Homo sapiens: one gene and its partners. The protein of the gene in region 4 purifies or fractionates together with the protein of the main gene of each other region. This does not show direct contact. Each region holds a gene or a part of one and is shown on either strand. Other genes may lie near its edges.

The links.
Region 1: the proteins of PDHX (region 4) and ALDH16A1 fractionate together in Homo sapiens (co-fractionation; one large-scale study listed by BioGRID). This does not show direct contact.
Region 2: the proteins of PDHX (region 4) and LRPPRC fractionate together in Homo sapiens (co-fractionation; one large-scale study listed by BioGRID). This does not show direct contact.
Region 3: the proteins of PDHX (region 4) and PARS2 fractionate together in Homo sapiens (co-fractionation; one large-scale study listed by BioGRID). This does not show direct contact.

Annotation. Positions count from the first base shown.
Region 1 is NC_000019.10:49,465,229-49,471,203, reverse strand, and holds the end of ALDH16A1 (aldehyde dehydrogenase family 16 member A1), read right to left. Parts: intron 5,467-5,975; coding exon 5,299-5,466; intron 5,123-5,298; coding exon 4,921-5,122; intron 2,824-4,920; coding exon 2,638-2,823; intron 2,341-2,637; coding exon 2,218-2,340; intron 899-2,217; coding exon 737-898; 3' UTR 154-736; downstream 1-153.
Region 2 is NC_000002.12:43,975,294-43,979,462, forward strand, and holds part of LRPPRC (leucine-rich PPR motif-containing protein, mitochondrial precursor), read right to left. Parts: intron 1,984-4,169; coding exon 1,862-1,983; intron 1,760-1,861; coding exon 1,701-1,759; intron 937-1,700; coding exon 850-936; intron 1-849. UniProt on the Homo sapiens protein: May play a role in RNA metabolism in both nuclei and mitochondria. In the nucleus binds to HNRPA1-associated poly(A) mRNAs and is part of nmRNP complexes at late stages of mRNA maturation which are possibly associated with nuclear mRNA export.
Region 3 is NC_000001.11:54,761,724-54,765,806, reverse strand, and holds the start of PARS2 (probable proline--tRNA ligase, mitochondrial precursor), read left to right. Parts: upstream 1-1,283; 5' UTR 1,284-1,346; intron 1,347-4,083. UniProt on the Homo sapiens protein: Mitochondrial aminoacyl-tRNA synthetase that catalyzes the specific attachment of the proline amino acid (aa) to the homologous transfer RNA (tRNA), further participating in protein synthesis.
Region 4 is NC_000011.10:34,960,592-34,966,566, reverse strand, and holds part of PDHX (pyruvate dehydrogenase protein X component, mitochondrial isoform 1 precursor), read right to left. Parts: intron 1-5,975.

The DNA of each region.
Region 1 (5,975 bases), on a different chromosome or scaffold from region 4:
ATCCTAAGGCAGTGGTGTGCTGAAGCGGCTCGTATTGGCTCATGGGAGCTGACCTGTTAACAATTCAGGATCTCGCAGGCAGTTGTTTAATCACCTGTACCTTGAAATCCGGCACGGTGGGAGCATTTACATCATGGAAATTGACAAAAGTCATATAGGAGGACTTTAATTTTATTCCAGAGAGTTCCTTTACTGCATATGGATTCTGGGGCCATGAAAAGGTAGAGAAAACCAGAGAGCAAGAGCCACCAGATGGAGAAGACAAGAAGATATGAGAGTCCTAAGGCCCTGTCTGGGGTCCTCGGGGGTCCCCTTTCTCTGTTTCACAAACACAGCACCGTGCTGGAGCCGGCTCCTGAGCTGCTCAACCTCAGAACTAAAATGGCCTCGAGCCAGGTGTGGTGGTGCATGTCTGTGGCCCCAGCTACATATGAGGCTGAGGCATGAGGATCCCTTGAGCCCCAGAGGTCGAGGCTGCAGTGGGCCGAGATTGTGCCACTGCGCTCCAGCCTGGGTGACAGAGCCAGACGTTGTCTCAAAAAAAAAAAAAAAAAAGAAAAAAGCCTCATATCTGCCAGAAGTTGCTACACCCTTTCTTCTCGCAGAAGCACAGCTAGGGTTGGTCAGAGAGTTTATTGGGAGACACAGGAACCAGAAGGGGAAAGTCCCAGGTGTCTGTGGGGTGCATCTCCCCTTGGTGTGAGGTGTCCAAAATGCAGTAGGTGGCGCTCAGGCATCAGTCCCCCATAGGCAGCCACAGGGCCTTGGTCCGCGCCACTCGCAGCCCCAGCTCTGGGCCTGCCCCCTCGGCCTCCTGGTCCCAGGCCCGCGGGCAGCCCCTGCTCGCCCACACCGGTTTGAGGTTTCCTGCCGAGGCCCACTCGACAAACTGGGAACCCTGAGGGGAGGAAGAGACGGGGGTAAGCACTTCTGCAGGCTTGTTGCTGAGCACCTGCTTCCTCCGCGATGAAGACTGTTACTGACGAGGGGCTTCAGGCTGGACCCAGGCTCTGCAGCTACAATGCCCAGCTCCTCCCAAGCAGAACTTCCAGATGGTAGGGAAAAGCACTGGACCCAGTGGTTAGGGAATTTCCTCTCCCTTAACAGCCCATGTTGAAAGGAATGGGCCCCAAGGCTCTTGTCAACAAGTTCACATCTGTTACCAACAGGAGGTTTAAGAGAGTGGACGGTGGGGCGCGGTGACTCGCTCCTGTAATCCCAGCACTTGGGGTGGCTGAGGCGGGAGGATCGCTTGAGTTCAGGAGTTTGAGACCAGCCTGGACAATATGGCGAGACCCCGTCTCCATTTAAAAAGTAAAAATTGGTTGGGCACAGTGGCTCACGCCTGTAATCTCAGCATTTTGGGAGGCTGAGGCAGGCAGATCACGCGAGGTCAGGAGTTCGAGACCAGCCTGGCCAATATGGCGAAACCCCATCTCTACTAAAAAAAAACCCCCAACAATTAGCTGGGCATGGCGGTGAGTGCCTGTAGTCTCAGCTACTTGGGAGGCAGGAGAATCACTTGAACCCGGGAGGCAGAGGTTGCAGTGAGCCAAGATCGTGCCACTGTATTCCAGCCTGGGCGACAGAGTGAGACTCTGTCTCAAAAAAAATAAAATAAAATAAAATAAAATAAAAAAAAAAACAGTAGACTCAACCAGTTGTGCTGGCTCACACCTGTAATCCCAGCACTTTGAGAGGCCGAGGCGGGCAGATCACTTGAGCCCAGGAGTTCAAGATCAGCCTGGCCAACATAGAGAAACCCCAGTCTCTGCAAAAGAAAAAAATTAGCTGGGCATGGTGGTGCACGCCTGTGGTCCCAGCTACTCAGGAAGCTGAGGTGGGACGGTGGCTTGAGCCTGGGAGGTTGCGGCTGCAGTGAGGTATGATTGCATCTGGGTGACAGGGTGAGGTTCTGTCTCAAAATAGAAAAACAAAGCGTAGACTGTGGGCCTCCAAATCTAGGGTGTGGTCCTTAGCAACGGGCTGTCCCCTGAGACGAGGTCTTTGGGCTAGGCAGCTCTCAGGCCCCTGTTGCTAAGGACAGCCTCTTCCTTAGTAACTTGAGTCCTAAGGGCGGGGCCTCAAAACCTTCTTGTCAAGGAGTTTCTCCCCTTACCAACAGGAGTTCTAAGAGGGCGGGGCTGTGTTTCCAGAAAAGGAGGAGCCTGTTTGAAGTTTGAGATGCTGAAGATGGCAAAACAGAACAAAGAGCACCTGGGCTGATCCGAAATACCACATGGCCTGGACGTCTTGGTGCAAGGCCAGGCAGCGGGTCAGATGGTCCCGGTCTCCTGTCACCACGTTGGCCAGGCCTGCTGGGAACACGGTGGCCATGTCCTAGGGGATAGAGAGAGTGAAAGGTTGGGGAGGCCGTGGGGGCAGGGCAAGGAGTGGGCATTCAGGGGGTGCCCATGGGAGGGAAGGGGATGGGGGGTCATGGAGGAGAAAGCCCCAGGCCTAGGGTGAAGAATGGGCACTGGGTCCCCAAGGAGTGAAGGTTTGGGTGCTGGGGCTGGGGGCAGCATGGGTACCACGGAGGGTGGGGTAAGAGACAAGCTCCTGCCGACTTTGGGGCGCCTTTTTCTGCTGCCCTGAGGCTACGGGGAGGAGAGGCAGGAAGGCAGGGGGCTATACCTGGCAGACCTCCAGGGCCAGCAGAGGACAGGCCGCACTGGGCACCATGACCACAGTGTTGCCGTAGGCCAGGGCGGGAGCCAGCAGGGACACGAAGGCAAGCAGGGGCCACTCGTCCGGACACACCACAGCCAGCACACCCAGCGGCTCCCGCAGGCGCAGCACAGGGCCTCTCAGCCCGGCTACCTGCAGGGACAGGTGGGTCACGTGTGGGGCAGGGGAGCCCCGCCCGCAGTAAATGAGAGATCCAGTTCCTCTACATTCTCCCCAACACTTGGTGTTGGCCCAAACCGCACCATTGTGGAAGCCCCTGCCATTTCGCAGACGCTGGTCAAAGTGAATCATTCCACGGGGGTTCGGGCGGTGAGAAACATCCTGCATAACCGCCTTTCTTTTTTTTTTTTTTTGAGACGGACTCTCACTCTGTCGCCCTGGCTAGAGTGCAGTGGTGCGATCTTGGCTCACTGCAACCTCCGCCTCCCGGGTTCACGCCATTCTCCTGCCTCAGTCTCCTGAGTAGCTGAGACTACAGGCACCTGCCACCATGCCCGGCTAATTTTTTTTTTTTGTATATTTAGTAGAGACGGGGTTTCACTGTGTTAGCCAGGATGGTCTCGATCTCTTGACCTTGTGATCTGCCCACCTTGGCCTCGCAAAGTGCTGAGATTACAGGCGTGAGCCACTGCGCCTGGTCTATTTTCTTTTGTTAAAAATAAATATGGTGTTGGGGGGTGGGAGGCAAGGGGAGGGAACTTAGAGGGCAGGTCAATAGGTGCAGCAAACCACCATGGCACGTGTATCCCTATGTAACAAGCCTGCGCGTTCTGCACATGTATCCCAGAACTAAAGTAAAATAAAATTTAAAAAAAAGAAGGCCGGGTGTAGTGGCTCACACCTGTAATCCCAGCACTTTGGGAGGCCAAGGTGGGCGGATCACGAGGTCAGGAGATCGAGACCATCCTAACATGGTGAAACCCTGTCTCTACTAAATATACAAAAAAAAAATTAGCCGGGTGTGGTGGTGGGCACCTGTAGTCCCAGCCACTCGGAAGGCTGGGGCAGGAGAATGGCGTGAACCTGGGATGCAGAGGTTGCAGTGAGCCGAGATTGCGCCACTGCACTCCAGCCTGGGCGACAGAGCGAGACTCTGTCTCAAAAAAAAAAAAAAAAGAAAGAAAGAAATATGGTTTGGCCCATGATATAGTTCAGATGTCCCACCCAAATCTCATGTTGAAATGTAATCCCTGGCCAGGCGCAGTGGCTCACGCCTATAATCCCAGCACTTTGGGAGGTCAAGACAGGCGGATCACTTGAAGCTAGGAGTTCAAGATCAGCCTGGGCAACATGGCGAGTCTCTTGTCTCTGCAAAAATACAAAAACACCCAGTCATGTGTGCTGGTGTGTGCCTGTGATCCCAGATACTCAGGAGGCTGAGGTGGGGGGCTCACTTGGACCTCGGAGGTTGAGGCTGCAGTGAGCCATGATTGTGGCACTGCACTCCAGCCGGGTGCCAGAGGGAGACTGGTGCCAACATGCCCAGCTAATTTATCTATTTTTTGTGGAGACAGGGTTTCACTGTGTTGCCCAGGCTGGTTTCAAACTCCTGGCCTCAAGCGATCCACCCACTTTTGCCTCCCAAAGTGCTAGGATTACAGGCGTGAGCCACCATGTCTGGCCAGGTATTTTTTGTTTTTTGTTTTTTTTTGTGACACAAGGTCTCACTCTGTCACTCAGGCTGGAGTGCAGTGGCACGATCTCGGCTCACTGCAACCACTGCCTCCTGGGTTCAAGCAATTTTCCTGCCTCAGCCTCCTAAGTAGCTGGGACTATAGGTGCCCACCACCGTACCCAGCTAATTTTTTGTATTTTTAGTAGAGACCAGGTTTCACCGTGTTGCCCAGGCTGGTCTCGATCTCCTGACCTCGTGATCCGCCTGCCTCAGCCTCGCGAAGTACTGGGATTACAGGCGTGAGCCACTGCGCCCCCAGGTGTTTCTTTACAGCAATGTGAGAACCGCCTAACAGCCCACTAAATTGATTTTAGGGTCCAGGAATGGGTCGCTATCCATCATCTGGCGAACGCTACTCTACGAGGCGGGTTGTGTGCCCACTCACTGTACAGATGAGGGAACTGAGGTAGGGAGAGGTGAAGCCACTTGCTGATGATCCTGCCGTGGAAGGCGGTGGGGCTGGGCCCGAATTCCAAGCCTGGGTTATCTCACAGCCTCTGGTCTGAGCCCCACCCCGCCTGCCCAGCTGGCCCAGGTGCCCACAGACCCTTCACCTGCAGGGTGTGGCCTTGGGCCTGCACCCGGGCCCCCCACGCCCGAAGTCGTCTTGCGCTCAGCTCCACCTCCGCCTCCGCAGCCTTGAGCTCCGCTCCCTGCCTCTCCAGCCTCGAGGCCAGGGTAGACTTCCGGCGCTCCAGTGCAGCCGCCAGGGCCCACAGCAGGGCTGCCCGGGCTCCTGGGGACTGGCCCGCCCAGCTGTGGGCAGACAGCGCACAGTGGGGGTTGGCATCCTGGTCTTGGCTCTCCTGACACCCCACCTCTGTCCACAGCCCCTACCCTGGGGGCCCAGCCTCCCAGTCCACCAATTGCTGTGGGCAGGCTCCCCTCTCTGCCACACCATGACCCTTGGGCTTTCCCGTGTGACCCCTTACCCAGGGAAAGCCTGGTGAGCGGCCTCCACAGCACCTCGGATGTCCTTGGCTCCACCCTCAGCCACGTAGCCATGGAGGTTGCCAGACGAATCCCGGATGGGCCTGGAGCTTCGGGCCCCAGGAGCCTGGAAACGGCCCCCAACGAAGAGCCCATAGGGGGGTGCTGGGCTGGAGTAGGGTGGGACATGAGGAGGAGTCCTGGGGCCTCAATCTGCTCAGACCCTATGCTCTACCGCACTGGGAAGACTGCCTTGGCTCCCGTGAGCCTCTGGGGCACCCCAAACCCCTGTTCCCATGAGCCTCTGGGGGACCCTAAAACTCCTGCTCCCATGATTCACTGGGGGACCCTAAACTCCAGCTCCCATGAGCCTCTGGGGGACCTTAAACTGCTCCCATGAGCCTCTGGGGAACCCCAAATTCCTGCTCCCATGAGCCTCTGGATGACTCAAGTTTCTGCTCCCATGAGCCTCTGGGGGACCCCAAACCCCTGTTCCCACTAGCCTCTGGGTACCCTAAACTCCTGCTCCCATGAGCCTCTGGGGGACCCTAAACTCCTACTCCCATGAGCCTCTGGCAGACCCTAAACTGCTCTCATAAGCCTGTGGGGCACCCCAAATTCCTGTTCCCATGAGCCCCGGAGGACCCAAAGCTTCTGCTCCCATGAGCCTCTGGAGGAC
Region 2 (4,169 bases), on a different chromosome or scaffold from region 4:
TATTAAAATAAAAAATGCTAAGTACCATTTGGAATTATGATGTCAGAAAAGAACTAATGTATATTAAACTGGATATATGTTTCTGAAATAATAAAGATCATAAACATCTGATCCCCCATTAAAAAATAATAATAATTACATAGACATTAAATAACATACCCTCTTAATATTATGTAGGTTATGACTCAGACTTAACTTTCGAGGTAAGAATAACATTTAGTAAATTACTCTTCAAAAATAAAAATATTTTCCAGAGCAGTTACTTCAGATCAGATCAAGCCCAGTTTCTTTTTTCTTTTTTTTTTTTGAGATGGAGTCTTGCTCTGTCTCCCAGGCTGGAGTGCAATGGTGTAATCTCGGCTCACTGCAACCTCTGCCTCCCGGGTTCAAGCAACGCTCCTGCCTCAGACTCCCAAGTAGCTGGGATTACAGGCACCTGCCATCATGCCCGGCTAAATTTTTATATTTTTGTAGAGACCGGGTTTCACCATGTTGGCCAAGCTGGTCTTGAACTCCTGACCTCAGGTGATCTGCCCACCTCAGCCTCCCAAAGTGCTGGGATTACAGGCATGAGCCACCACGCCCGGCTTCAAGCCCAATTTCTAAAAATTCAAATAAAAGAAAGATTTGTGGAACAAATGTAAAAGCTCATTATAAAAATATTAGTATGCTCTACCTCATATACTACAGATTTTTTTTTGAAGGGATAGACAAATGTATTTTAAGAACTGTCTACAATAATTTTCTCTAATTTAAACCCCACTTAACAAACAAAAAAGGAGTAAAATGACCACTTTAGCATCTCAGCCATCTATCACTTAAGAACCAAAACCTTAGGTTGAACATTACCCAGCTCTGGCATGCCCTGTCACAAGGGCACTGAATACTGCCTCTGTAACTGGGAGATCCTTAGTTTTCATAAATCCAAGAATCTTGCTGCAAAGGAAAAACGAAGATACTCATTGAAAGTATTTATAAGAACACTCTTTACAACATGTACAGAATTAGGCCTTGAGTTACTTTTGTTTTTAAAATATAATAGTAATATACATTTGTTTTAGAAACCACAAAGAAAGAACTAATCCCTTTGATCCCCTTCCCACAAAACCCCACTCTCTAATGTATCAACAGTCTTGAAGTACTATCGATACAAATACTAGATTTTTAAAAATCTGATTATCTGATTTGTCTTACACTACTAATTACCCTTTTAAAAGCATAGTTTCATAAGATTCTTTTAGATAAAAATGAAATTATGTATTCCAATTTATCCCTTATTTTCCAAACCTTCCATTCATAAGTAGTAATAAATTTTACATAAGCAGAGAAATGGTGCAACTGATTTTCTACACTACTTCCAGTTTTATAAATGAATACAGCTTAAATGGTTAAGAACATTTCCCTTAGGAAATATTTAAAAAAAAAAAAAAAAAAGCAAAGTCAGCTTTATAGCTCAACAACTTTATACCTCTCTCCAGTAAATCAAATTTTTAATTAAAATAGCAACTTTTACTTATCTTTTCTCTCTTACACGATAATTTTATATTTTATGTAAGTCAGATTACCAGATTTTCTAGATTAAAACAGTTCTGAAACAATTTCCTCCATTAGGAAGAAGCTTTAAAACAAAGAGTGAACAGACATTAGATTTACAAAATGTACAAATTTGTTCGCTTAAACATGTTCATACAGATCCATACCTGGCACCTTCAATATCTCCTACATTACAATAAGAAGCAATCAATCTCTGGTATGTCACCTGTCAATGAAATGGGCCAGTTAATTTTAAATATACTTTTTTTTCTGAGTAAAGAAAAAAAATGGTGGATGTGAAAATATATTCACAATAGCAACTACTTACTCGATTTGGTTGAATGTTTGCTTCCTCCATTTTTGCCAGGAAATCAGTTGGTGAGAATTTATATTCATTTTGAAGATAGACTTTAAGTAAAGCATTATAGTGACTCACATCATACACAGCACCTACAAATGAAATTTAAAATGAATTTTTAGAAAAGCATTGAAAATCCTATGCTTTAAAGTGGACCTAAATTTAACAAACAAAAAGAGTAAAACTATCACTTTAGCATTTCACCCATCCATCTTGGCGCTCAGACCTATCTACACAGATACTCTGTCACACAGAGCAAGCTAAGCATGTAAGACAGTAATTACTGAGTTACTGTATAGTTACAAGTAACTGCCTATTCGGATATTAAAAGGCCTCTTACTTATGAAGCACAAAATTATCTTCCTGTTAGAAAACGCTGACAATATCCCTATATTTAAAAGTGACTGTAAGATTTTTCTATATAAAGCAGTCCTCACATTACAGACACACTGTGAAGAATGGATTGTAACTTCAGTTCTTTCACACAGTAGGACTGTGCTGGCAATTCTGTCACTCAAAGCCTTCATTTTAAGGATGCATTCCATTTTCAGCTGATGAACATGATCTATGGTATGCTCTTGTTAATTATCTGTATTCTAATGACCTTTGTTTTCTTTGTATCCCTACTGTTTAGGGCCACATCAAATAAGGTTACCACACAGCCTTACTCTACTGAGTCATGACATCATGGTCTTTATATCAATTTTGTGGTAACATGTCTCACTACATTTTCATGCATTAAATTTCACATCTTTATTCAACTGCCTGTGACCATACAGGCCTATGGTTAGTATCTGGGGGTGAGAGTATGTGATTTTAGGCAGCAGAGAGCTGTTCCATTAAATTAATACACATTTTTATCTTAACAGATATGTTTCTTTCATACTATGTTTCAGGCACTATGCTAAGTGTTCCACATATAGTGGCTCACTCAAACTTCACAACAACTTTGAGACACTATTATCAGCCCCATCTTACAGATAGCTCAGATCTGTCAACAGCTCATTCTGTAATTTTGGACAAGTTACTTAAGCTAAAAGATCTCTTGTATCTTTATAAATCTGTAAACAAGAGTCAAACTGGCAAACTACAAGGTTTCTGGCAATATTAATTCAACAAGTATGTATCAAATGCCATTATACACAAAGCATCATGCTACTGTCAAACAGGAAAATAAAGAAGCCATGGATTCCATCCTTATAAAGCAGACACTTATACAGGAGAGACCTATCTGTAAAGAATGTTAATATAATAACACATTGTTAATCTTTATATGGAGGAATTAATGTTATTACTGCTGTGTAATGCTTTTTTCTATTTTAGAATGTAACCTTTTCTGCATATATTTCTCCCAGTTCAATGACTTACTGACATACAGAAATTTCTAATTTTTAGAGATTCAATATTTTAGCTTTACTTTTCTGCTCCTTTTATACTTATAAAATCCTTTTCCATTCTGAAAGTCAACATTTATCTATATAGTTTTTAACTTAAAAAAAAATCAACTTATCAAAATGTATTCTAGATGTATTCAAAACTGTGAAGGAAGAATCTGTCTTTATCCTGTAGTTTTTTTCACATAGGTCCTACTCACTTTTTGAAGGATAGTCCTAAATATTTTATTTATCTGTAGCTATACTTTCTTGGATTCTTTTCTCTATTTTCTTTTATAACTAGAAGAGGTATGGATTCTTAAACATTTAGTGAGTCCAGCTAATTACTGTGAGCTGATTTTCTGGGATTTTGCAGATTAAACAATCACATCATCTAAAAATAATAACTTCTTGTATTGTTTCACATCTTATTTCATTGCATTATACATGATTGTTGTCGGTTTTAGATTTTTAACACATTAAAGAAGCATCTTTCTATACTTTAAGATTTTTTTAAATCAGGAATGAACATTAAATTGTATTAAACCATCTTTTTTCAAATTATTTTTTGAATACGTACTATGTTACATGACATAAAACTGAAAAGGTATAAAAAGGTCAAGTAAAACCTGTATCCAGTGTTCATCATCCTTCTAGAAATATTTTAATATTGTATACACATGCACGTGTAAAAACACTTTTCTTCAAAATGGTATCATTCTATACATACTGGTCTACACCTTAATTTTTATTTATACTCTGGAGAACACCCCCATTGGCATATAAAGAGCTTCTTCATTTCTTAAAACAGTTACACAGTAATCTATTTTACGGGTACTCCATAATTTATTTACCTAATCCCCTAGAGAAGAATATTTGAATTGGTTCCAATTTCTTACTATTAC
Region 3 (4,083 bases), on a different chromosome or scaffold from region 4:
CATTTGCATTTCTTGTTTCCTGTGTCTGGAAATTTCTTCCCCTGCAAGGCTCTGTCTCTCACCCCCTTCTGGTCTTTGCTAAAAACGCCACCTACTTGATGAGGTTTTTCCTGATCCTCCTATTTTAAATTGCAAACACTTGGCTGGGCGCGGTGGCTCACACCTATAATCCCAACAGTTTGGGAGGCCGAGGTGGGTGTATCACCACCTGAGGTCAGGAGTTCAAGACTAGCCTAGCCAATATGGTGAAACCCCATCTCTACTAAAAATACAAAAAGTAGTCGGACGTGGTGGGCACCTGTAATCCCAGCTACTCGGGAGGTTGAGGCAGAAGAATTGCTTAAACCCGGGAGAAGGAGGTTGCAGTGAGCCGAGAACGCGCCATTGTACTCCAGCCTGGGCGACAAGAGCAAAACTCCGTCTCAAAAAAACAAAGAAAAAAATTGCAAACACTTAACTCCCCCACTCCATTCTCCTTCTCTAATTTTTTCTTTATAGCCCTTATCACCATCTGACTGACAGATTCTTTTAAATTTTGATATTTTGTTTGCCATGGATTTTTTGCATTTTGTTTTTTTAAAAAAACAATTGTATTAAAATACTGTTTATCTTGGTTACTGAGTTCTTTGCTCCCATTCCCTGCCCTGCTTAAATTTCGCTCTATTGGTTTATTGACTGTGTCCTCTCTAGAACACAAGCTACACTGAACGCAGTTAATTTTGTCTGTTTGGTTCACTTCACTGTCCCCAGTGTCTACAGCAGTGGCTTCTACGTGGTAGCAGCTCAAAAAATATTTTGTGAATGGAAGTTTGAATCTGTGTCTTAAAGACTGTCTTGGGCACTGTAATAAAGGCGTCTTTCTCAAACTGTTTCACAATTTTATACTATTTAAATGGAAAGCCCGTAAAAATCATAGGATAGATTAGAAACTACACTGCCCAGTGTGTCGTCATGGTTACACTGTCGCCAGTGGTTCTCCTATTGGGGGAGTGGGCGGGGCCTGGCAGGGGCAGGAAGAGCACCCTCAAGTCATCATAGAGTTATACCTCCCAAGTTCCTAGAAAGTACTTCCGGAACGGTGATTTACTCAAGGCTGCCCTGGCCAATCAACGATCTTGGGGAAAGCCGGGTACTCGCTCTTTGGCTACACTTCCGGAAAACCTCTCACGCGCGCCTAGCGTGGGGCGGGGCCAGAGCGCCCCTGCCCTCGGCCCCGCCTCCGTGAGCGCGGCTTTGCAATTGGCGAAAAGGGCAGGAGGCGGGGCTTAGGAGCGGGCTTGCTCGAGGCGCAAGCGCGCTGGCCCGGCACGGCGGTGGTCTTGCGGGAGGCGTGGGCTGGGATTGCGGTAGGTGAACGTGGGTGACTCCCAGACCTGAGGGACGGGCGCGGGCAGCGAAATGAAGCGAGCACGCGGTGTGGGCGCGGAGACCTAGGACCCTGGTGTCCGTTTTCCCACTTGCATCCCGTCCTTGAGTTGGGGCGGGCGAGAATCCCATAAACTTTTCGATACTCCTGGTCTCCGTGTCCTCCGTTGTAAAATGAGGGCAGCACTTCCTGGTCTCTCCCTCGGTCGTCGTGAGAGTCACACAGTTCTCGAAGTGCCAGCTCTGGAAAGGCCCTGGGACCACCTGCTGCCTGAGCCAGCCTTCCCGTTTTATGTTGGAGAAAACGGAGGTCCGGGGCGAAGTGAGTGGTCCAGGGTCACCGAGCGAGTGAAGGCCGAGCTTGTTCTTAGAACTAGGCCTAGGGTTCCATTGCTGTTTAATGTAGCACAGTTCGTGATGGAAACTGTAGGATTTGGAGGCGGGGACCTTGCCTTCCAGGCCCGACCCTGCGCTTATTTGCTGTGTGGCTTGACACAAGTGACTTTATATTTCAGAGCCTCCCTTTTCTGAGTTGGGCATAATAATAATAATAATAGCACTTTGTGAGACTTAATATTATGTATCAGGTACGGTTGTAAACGCTTTAGGTACAACTTTTCTGATTAGATTGGGGGGCAATGGTGAGTCAAAGAATCTTTAAAAAGGCCTGGGCTGGAAGGGCTGACAGTGTCCCGACAGAGTAGGTACTCAAAAAAATCGACTGAATGTCTCAGAGGCTGTTTGCCAGAGCCTGAAGTGTTGCATACGTTAGTTACTGTATTGCTCCTGAAAAACTGAGATAATTCTACTTATTCTCCTGTTTGTATAAGCTGAGGGGTCTGAGGACAGACATGCTAAACGTGGAGGAGAAGAGTTTAAAGCTCTCGTTTAAATTATCCAGATAATTATATCATTGCACCTGTTTGCTTTGCTCTTAATTTATTAACATATTTGATCAACAGATAATAATAGCCTAAATAGTAGGCATTATGCGAGACTCTGAAATTTAAAGATGTATAAAACTTCATAAACTTGTAATTTCATCAAGGAATAGAATGTTAAACATCGACACTGACCTCCCCTCCTGGCCCCCGTACACACCCCCAGAAAGAAAAAAAATTGTATGTGAAACACCATTCGCTTCCAATGCCTGGCACACAATAGTTCCTCAAAAATATTTTTGGAGATGATTCTAATACAGTATACTAAAAAGAGGTGTGTGCAGTGGAGCACAGAGGAGGTGACTTTCTCTGTTTAGAGGGGTTGGAGAAAGTTTCTTGGAGTAAGTGAACCTTGAATTCCAGTTGGAATTGCTGGGGGTTGGGGGGAGGTCAGTCTGTTTCAAGAATAATGAGCAACTTGGGGAATGCTAGGATAAGAAGCTGGAAGAGGTGTGTTGGGATCAAAATGTGAAGAGCTTTGGTGCCATTCTGAGAAAATTATGAGAGCCAGCCGTTAATGGATTGTAAACAGGGGAGTGATTGGGTCAGCTATCTTTTTAGCTGGAGACTAATACGGAGACTGGACTGACAGGGTTCAAGAATTACTCCATTCATTCATTGATAGAACATGTATTGAGCCTGGGCACAGTGGCTCACACCTATAATCCCAGCAATTTGGGAAGCTGAGGCAGGTGGATCGCATGAGGCCAGGAGTTCAAGACCAGCCTGGGCAACATAGCAAGACTCCATCTCTATTTTTTAAGAAAGAAAAAAAGGAACATGTTATTGAGTGTCCACTGTGTCCAGGCACTGTGCTGAATGCTGCAGATAAAACTTGGAATAAAATAGACATAGCTGTCGTCTTCATGGAGTTTAAGACATTAGTCATTGGTGGTACACAGCTAGACCCCTGCAGTGGTTCTCCCAGTGGGGTCCCTGGACCAGCAGCATCTGTGTCACCTGGGAACTTGTTAGAAATACAGGTTCTCTGCCCACACCCCAAACTTACTAAATGAGAAGCTCTGGAGATGGGCCTCTGCAATCACTGTTTTAACAAACCCAACCGGGCATGGTGGCTCACGCCTGTAATCCCAGCACTTTGGGAGGCCGTGGCGGGCTGATCACTTGAGGTCAAGGAGTTTGAGACCAGCCTGGCCAACATGGTGAAACTCTGTCTGTACTAAAAATATGAAAAATAGTTGGGCATGGTGGCACATGCCTGTAATTCCAGCTACTCAGGAGGCTGAGGCAAGAGAATCTCTTGAGGCTGGGGGTACGGAGGTTGCAGTGATCTGACATTGCACCACTGCACTCCAGCCTGGGTGATAGAGTGAACTCTGTCTCTAAAAAAAAAAAAAAAAAAACAAGCCCTCCAGCGATTCTGATGCTCAATTAGATTTCAGAACCACTGGGTAACTGTAATGTAGCAAGTGGTATTGAGGGGCTAACCTAATGTTGAGGCAGTAAGGGCCAGAAAGGAGGGGGTGGACTTAAGGGAAACCTTGAGACAGACTCATTTGCTTTAGGAGGAATCAAGGATGAGTTTCTGGCTGGAGCCACTGCCCTAAGTAAGGTTGGATCACAAGGAAGTTATAGAGCCAGGGGTGAATCCACATGTGCCTTGCCTCCATGGCCCGTACGTTCCTACAACACCACACTAGGGCTCTGTGGCAGTGCCTGACCACCTTTAAACATTTGTACAGTGCACAGGGGAAATGAATGAGGCTGCTTGAGGTTGGAGGGGACAAGCTGGAGGACCTGAGGCTGCTAGAGGTAA
Region 4 (5,975 bases):
GAGATGTGGAGAAAAGATACAGAAATATACAGATGTCAAGGTTATAATTAAAAACCAGTAATTTGAGCTAGAAAATTAAATCCTGTCTCTTACCTGGTCTGCTGACCATTATTTGTCACGTTCTAATATTTGCATATTTTCAAAAGCCAAACAATTAAAATGTTATTAAAATTGGGCATAAGTAGTGATTTTTAAAAAGGAAATTAGTCTTTTTTTCTGTGCAGTGGACGTTATTTGGTAGATGAACAATTAATTAAACCACTCTCATCCTTTATACTCATGAAATAATATTCACATGGCATTCAAAAAGTGTCAAGTTTATTGTAAATATGGCTTTCACCAGGATACTTCCTACATCATTGTTCACTTATTGTTTATTCATTGTTTATTATAGTGCAAATCAGCTTATTTATGACCAGGAAATCAAACCATTTTTAATTTTGCTAATATGCCATCAGTACAATCTAATATAACAAATCTAACCTATGATATCTTTTAGAATGAAAAATAACTAGTTACAGACTTGCCTTTGTATTACTCTGTAAAACAAAGGTATTTTTGTCTTGTAAGAGGATATAATTAGATTACTAAATATGCTAAGCCCTCAACTCACTATGCTAAGTTACAGTGGTATTAGGCAATATATTTTCTTAAAATAATTTTTGGAACATTTTAATATCCAATAAGTATTTTGGAAAGTATTTTTTCCAATTTAAGAAAAAAAATTGTTTTATATAATCTAAAAAGAACTTCAGGATGACACAAAATCTAAGGAAAAATTATTTCTCAGTTAATATTTTGGTATTATTTTTCCAAAAATTTGATGAAAGATAAAAGCTAGCACCTGTTGAGCATATTTGAGAAGACCCCTTTACTTATGGCAACATGGTAGGAAGAATTCTGAGATGGCCCCAATATTCCTGCCCCTGGTGTACATGCCCCATATCATCCCTCTTGACTGTATCTGGCCTGTGAATATGATGGATGTCACTCCCATTATTAGGTCCTATTATGTGACAAAATTGGTGGCATTTTATAGATATATGAGGCTCCAAATCAGTTGCATTTGAGTTAACCAAAAGGCAAACTACCCTGGAGAGGGCAGATATATCAGGTAATCTCTTAAAAGAAATTAGGCCTTCCTGGAAGAAGAGACTTGAAGTAAAGAGATAAAACTGCTGGCCCGGGAGAAGCAAACATGCATGTTGTGAACCGCCTATGGAGACCACGCATGGCAAGGCCCTGCACGTGGCCTCTGGGAGCTGTCAGTGGTTCTTGGCTGAGAGCTAGAAAGAAAACAAGGGCCACAGTCCTACAGTCCCAAGGAACTGCATTCTGTCAACAACCACATGAGCTTGGAAGAGGACCCCAAGCTTCACATGAGTCCCCAGCCTTGGCCAACACTTTGATTTCAGCCTTGTGAGACCATGAGTTCAGAACCTGGCCATGCTATGCCAGGACTTCTAACCTATTGAACTGTTAGAAAACAAACAGGTATTATTTTAAGCTGGTAAGTTTACTGTAACTTGTTATGCAATAATAGAATATCAACACAAGCAGGAACAGTCTAACTGGGGTGCAAAAATCTGTATCGTTAATGCCCGAATACATCTATTTAAAAAAAAGGTTGCTGACACTAAATTGACACATTTTTAGCATAACTATTACTTATTAGCATATTTAGTAATATGTAATATTTAGTTATGCTAATAATATGCTAATAGCTAGCTAATATTAGTTATGCTAATAGCTAATATTAGTTATGCTAATAGCTAATATTAGTTATGCTAATATTACATATTTAGCATAACTATTACTGCTACTTTATTTTTTAAAAAGCAGTTTAGTTTTATCTCTGTAGTAATTAAGGTTCTTGGGTAGGTTAATCATAAAGAAGCAAGAACAAAATTGCTTCTTCTTGCTCACAAAAACTTGTATTGCTGATTTTATTTTTTTTTTATTTTTTAAAGAGTCTCACTCTGTCACCCAGGCTGGAGTGCAGTGGCGCGATCTCAGCTCACTGCAACCACCGCCTCCAGGGTTCAAGAGATTCTCATGCCTCAGCCTCTTTAGTAGCTGAGATTACAGGTGTGCATCACCACGCCTGGCTAATTTTTATATTTTTAGTAGAGATGGGGTTTTACCATGTTGGCCAGACTGGTCTCAAACTCCTGGCCTCAAGTGATTCGCCAGCCTTGGTCTCCCAAAGCACTGGGATTACAGGTGTGAGTCACTGCACCTGGTCTTTTTATTGCTGATTTTATACTTACATACCTATGAAGTATAAATCTTAATTATTGTTTAGTAACAGCCAATGATTTAGTTTTTTGTGAGGCAGAAAATGGTTTTAATGATTTCTGCACATTAAATAATCAGACTAAACTTGGAGCATTAGGTAGACATTAAAAGCTATAAAAATTAGGAGAAAAATATACCACACAAATTCATTCTGGCCACTGGCAGAAATAGGCAGATAGGCAGAGGATGCTCTGGAAGTTAACTCAGGTACAACCTTCTCTACTGGGTTCCCTGAGAGAGCAATTCATTTGGGTGTGACATGAATTCATTTTGAAAATACCACTAAAACACACTAGGCACTTGCCTGTCATACTTACCTAATTTTTGATGCTGTGTGATGAATACAAACATTACTACAACTATGATTTAGGACACAGATGTACCAAAGACATTGGGGCTGCAGGCAAAGAAACTAAATGTGTTCTGCTTCTAATTGTGGCCTCGACACTGCTTTCTTAAAACAGTCACATGTACAAGCAAAGTCAAGTCTATATTCTTTGGTACAACATGTATTCTGAGCAATGCTTGTTTTAAGGCAAAATTAAAATAGCAGCCCTGATACCCAAGATTTTCTTCACAAATACAGTGGGCTGGAGGCATTTCCTTCAGCATTTGGAACTGATTTTTCTACCCAGACTTTTAGTGGACATGGTATGGAGCATGTCCTCACCGTGTCAAGAACGTGTGTTGGCTGGGCACAGTGGCTCACGTCTGCATTCCCAGCACTTCGAGAGGCTGAGGTGGGAGGGTCACCTGAGGCCAAGAGCTTGAGACCAGCCTGGGCAACCTAGTGAGAAACCGTCTCTACAAAACTGTTTTAAAAATTTAGCCAGGCATGGTGGCACACCTGTAGTCCCAACTATTTGGGAGGTTGAGGTGATAGGACCACTTCAGCCTAGGAGTTCAAAGCTGCAGTGAGCTATGAATACACCACAGCACCCCAACCTGGGTGACAGAGTGAGAGCCTGTCTCTCTCTTAAAGAAAAAAAAATTCAAAACGTTAAAAAATAAAAAAGTGTGCTAAGATATTTTGGGGACAGCTATGCCAAAGCCTGCAATTTTTCAACCATAGCAGAAGACGACATTAGGCTAAAATTTTTTCCAAAGCTCACCTTAATGATAAACTTAAAATGCAGGCATTTTTAGCAGTATAGAAAAGCAAAAATCCTCAATAATATATGCTTTCAGGATCCATTTTTCTCATGAAATCTTTTGTACTAGTTCTTATTTTGAAGACCAAAGGCTGATGCCTTTCTCGTGGAGAGTTAAGGAATAAAGGCAGGGAAGAGAAAAGGGTAACAGGGTAGAAAAGATGGCAATAATACTAAAAGCCTAACTCTTTAATACTGCTTCCTTATGGTATTCAGGAGATAATACCATTTTGTTCTTAAGAAATGTTTCATTAATATTATAACTTTCAACTCAGGTTTAAAAAAAGATATTTGCGCATCATATATGTATTAAGCACACATGGAAAGAAAAGGAAGGAAGAAACCTTTATTTCTTTATTTTACTGCTGTCACACTACTGAACACCATATTACCAAATTTAAGAGGCTTTTCTTAGATCCTACCATCCTTGACTTTTCCCACATTTCCCAGGTATCCTCCAACTCAAGGATTTTAACCTCTAGTTTCCCTATTGATGATCTCAATTATAACTATTGCTTTATTATCTACCAAATCTACCTCTCTAATCCCCAACTATCTCCTGAGATACATCTTCATCTCATTGATCCCAATACCTACATGGCTTCTAAGTCCTGACAATAAGCTTCAAACATTACTAACTCCACCAAAACAAATGCTTCCCAAATCCATTATTTCTATTTATGGAGACCAAACTATCATCACCTAGACCAGATCCAAATTCATTCCCTTACTTGTTGCTACTCTGGCCTACACTCCACATTTAATCTGCAAAGGCTTCTGGACTTTATCCTTACAATGTTGTCTGTATCAGGGATCTCCCTTTTAGTTCTTCTAACCACATTCAAGTATTCATTACCTCTTACATGGATTACTTTAGGAGCCTATTAATTTATCTCCTTATCTCATCTTTTTCTGCTCCAGTTTATCTTACACAAATTTGCAGAACTGATCCCCCTAAGGTGCAGCAATCATTATTTTACATTTCACCAAATCCTCAAAGATTAATGAATTAAATACAGACTCTTATTCCTAATCCTCAGAATTATGAGCAAGGCAAATCTACTTTGTTATAAAAATAGTTGCTTTCTCCCATTTTTACAGAGAGTGCTACTAAGGCACAGACTGGTAGAGACTAACAAGATTAAGATACCAACAGTAGACACAAATCAGGATTGGTGTGGGGAAAAAACTGGGATTAACTGGCAACCAAGGTTCTTAATTTTAATTTTTTACAGCTAAGTGTAACTTTTAAATCCTTTAACTAAAAATCCCATGGTCTGGGATGTTGCCTTTCAGTCAGCTCTCAGGACAGCTGATTTCCAACTCATGCAGTGTGGCACGAACTTCACAGTATGTGTGTGATAGAACCACATACATTCAGTTAACAAATTAGTAAGAGTGTAATACACATAAATGAGGATATCTAAGAATTAAATCTATATACTGCTTTCAATAAAATAAACACCCAACAGTAAGCCAAAGCTTTCATGAAGAGTAAAATAACCCAGTGGAAAAAAGAAAACATTGCCTGGCCCAACACTGCCACTTATAATTTAACAACCATTGCTCTCTCTCGACTTACAAAAATTCTGGCCAATATTATTTTTTATTTCCTATCAATATTAGATAAATATGGAATGAGTACATTGCTTTAAAACATAAACTCAATTTGAAACATTTACTATTACTGCCAATAAAAATGTAGCACATAACACTACTGAAATCTTACATTAGTTCATAAGCCTATTTGATTAATCTTTGTCTACCCTACTAGACTAAGTTTCAACAGAACAGGGGCCATCTGTTTTGAAAGACACAAACATTTAAACTAATGGAAAGACACAAACATTTAAACCAGTGTTGCAGAACAGAAAGACCCATCATGATAAAGATGTCAGTTCTCACAAAGTTAATTTAAAATGTGATACAATCCCATAAAAATACCCCTCACTCCTACCCATGGAGCTAGACGAACTGCTTAAAATTCATTTGGAAGAATAATAAAATAAGAATGAACTAAGAAAACTGATTTAAAAAAAGAGCAAAGCTATTGTTATCAGATTTTAAAGCATACAATAAAACATTTCTAATTAAAAGTGTGGTACTAAAAAAGTATGGTACTAACTCATGGACAGATGGATCAGTGAAATAGAAAAGAAAATCTAAAAAGAGACCAAACTGTATATGGAAATTGCTTTATAACAGCACAAGTGAATAAAATTCAAAGGGATAATGAAAATAATTTTTTAAAAATATATTTCCTTGTTTTAGAAATGTAAATGTTATTGCATGATTTCACATATTTAATACTGTATAAAGTTTCACTGTTCTACGCTCTAATTTTCTGCATTTATTACCACTTCTAAGGATCTTGCTTAGTTACCAAATTAGAGCTGTTCTTCAGTAATGCTATAATTATTCAGAAAACAACTCTTGCATAGAATACAATTTACAATGATAAAAGCAATTAAAAGTACAAAAGAAGAACAGTGTACCTCCTTTTAAATCTTAAGACTGAATAAGCTC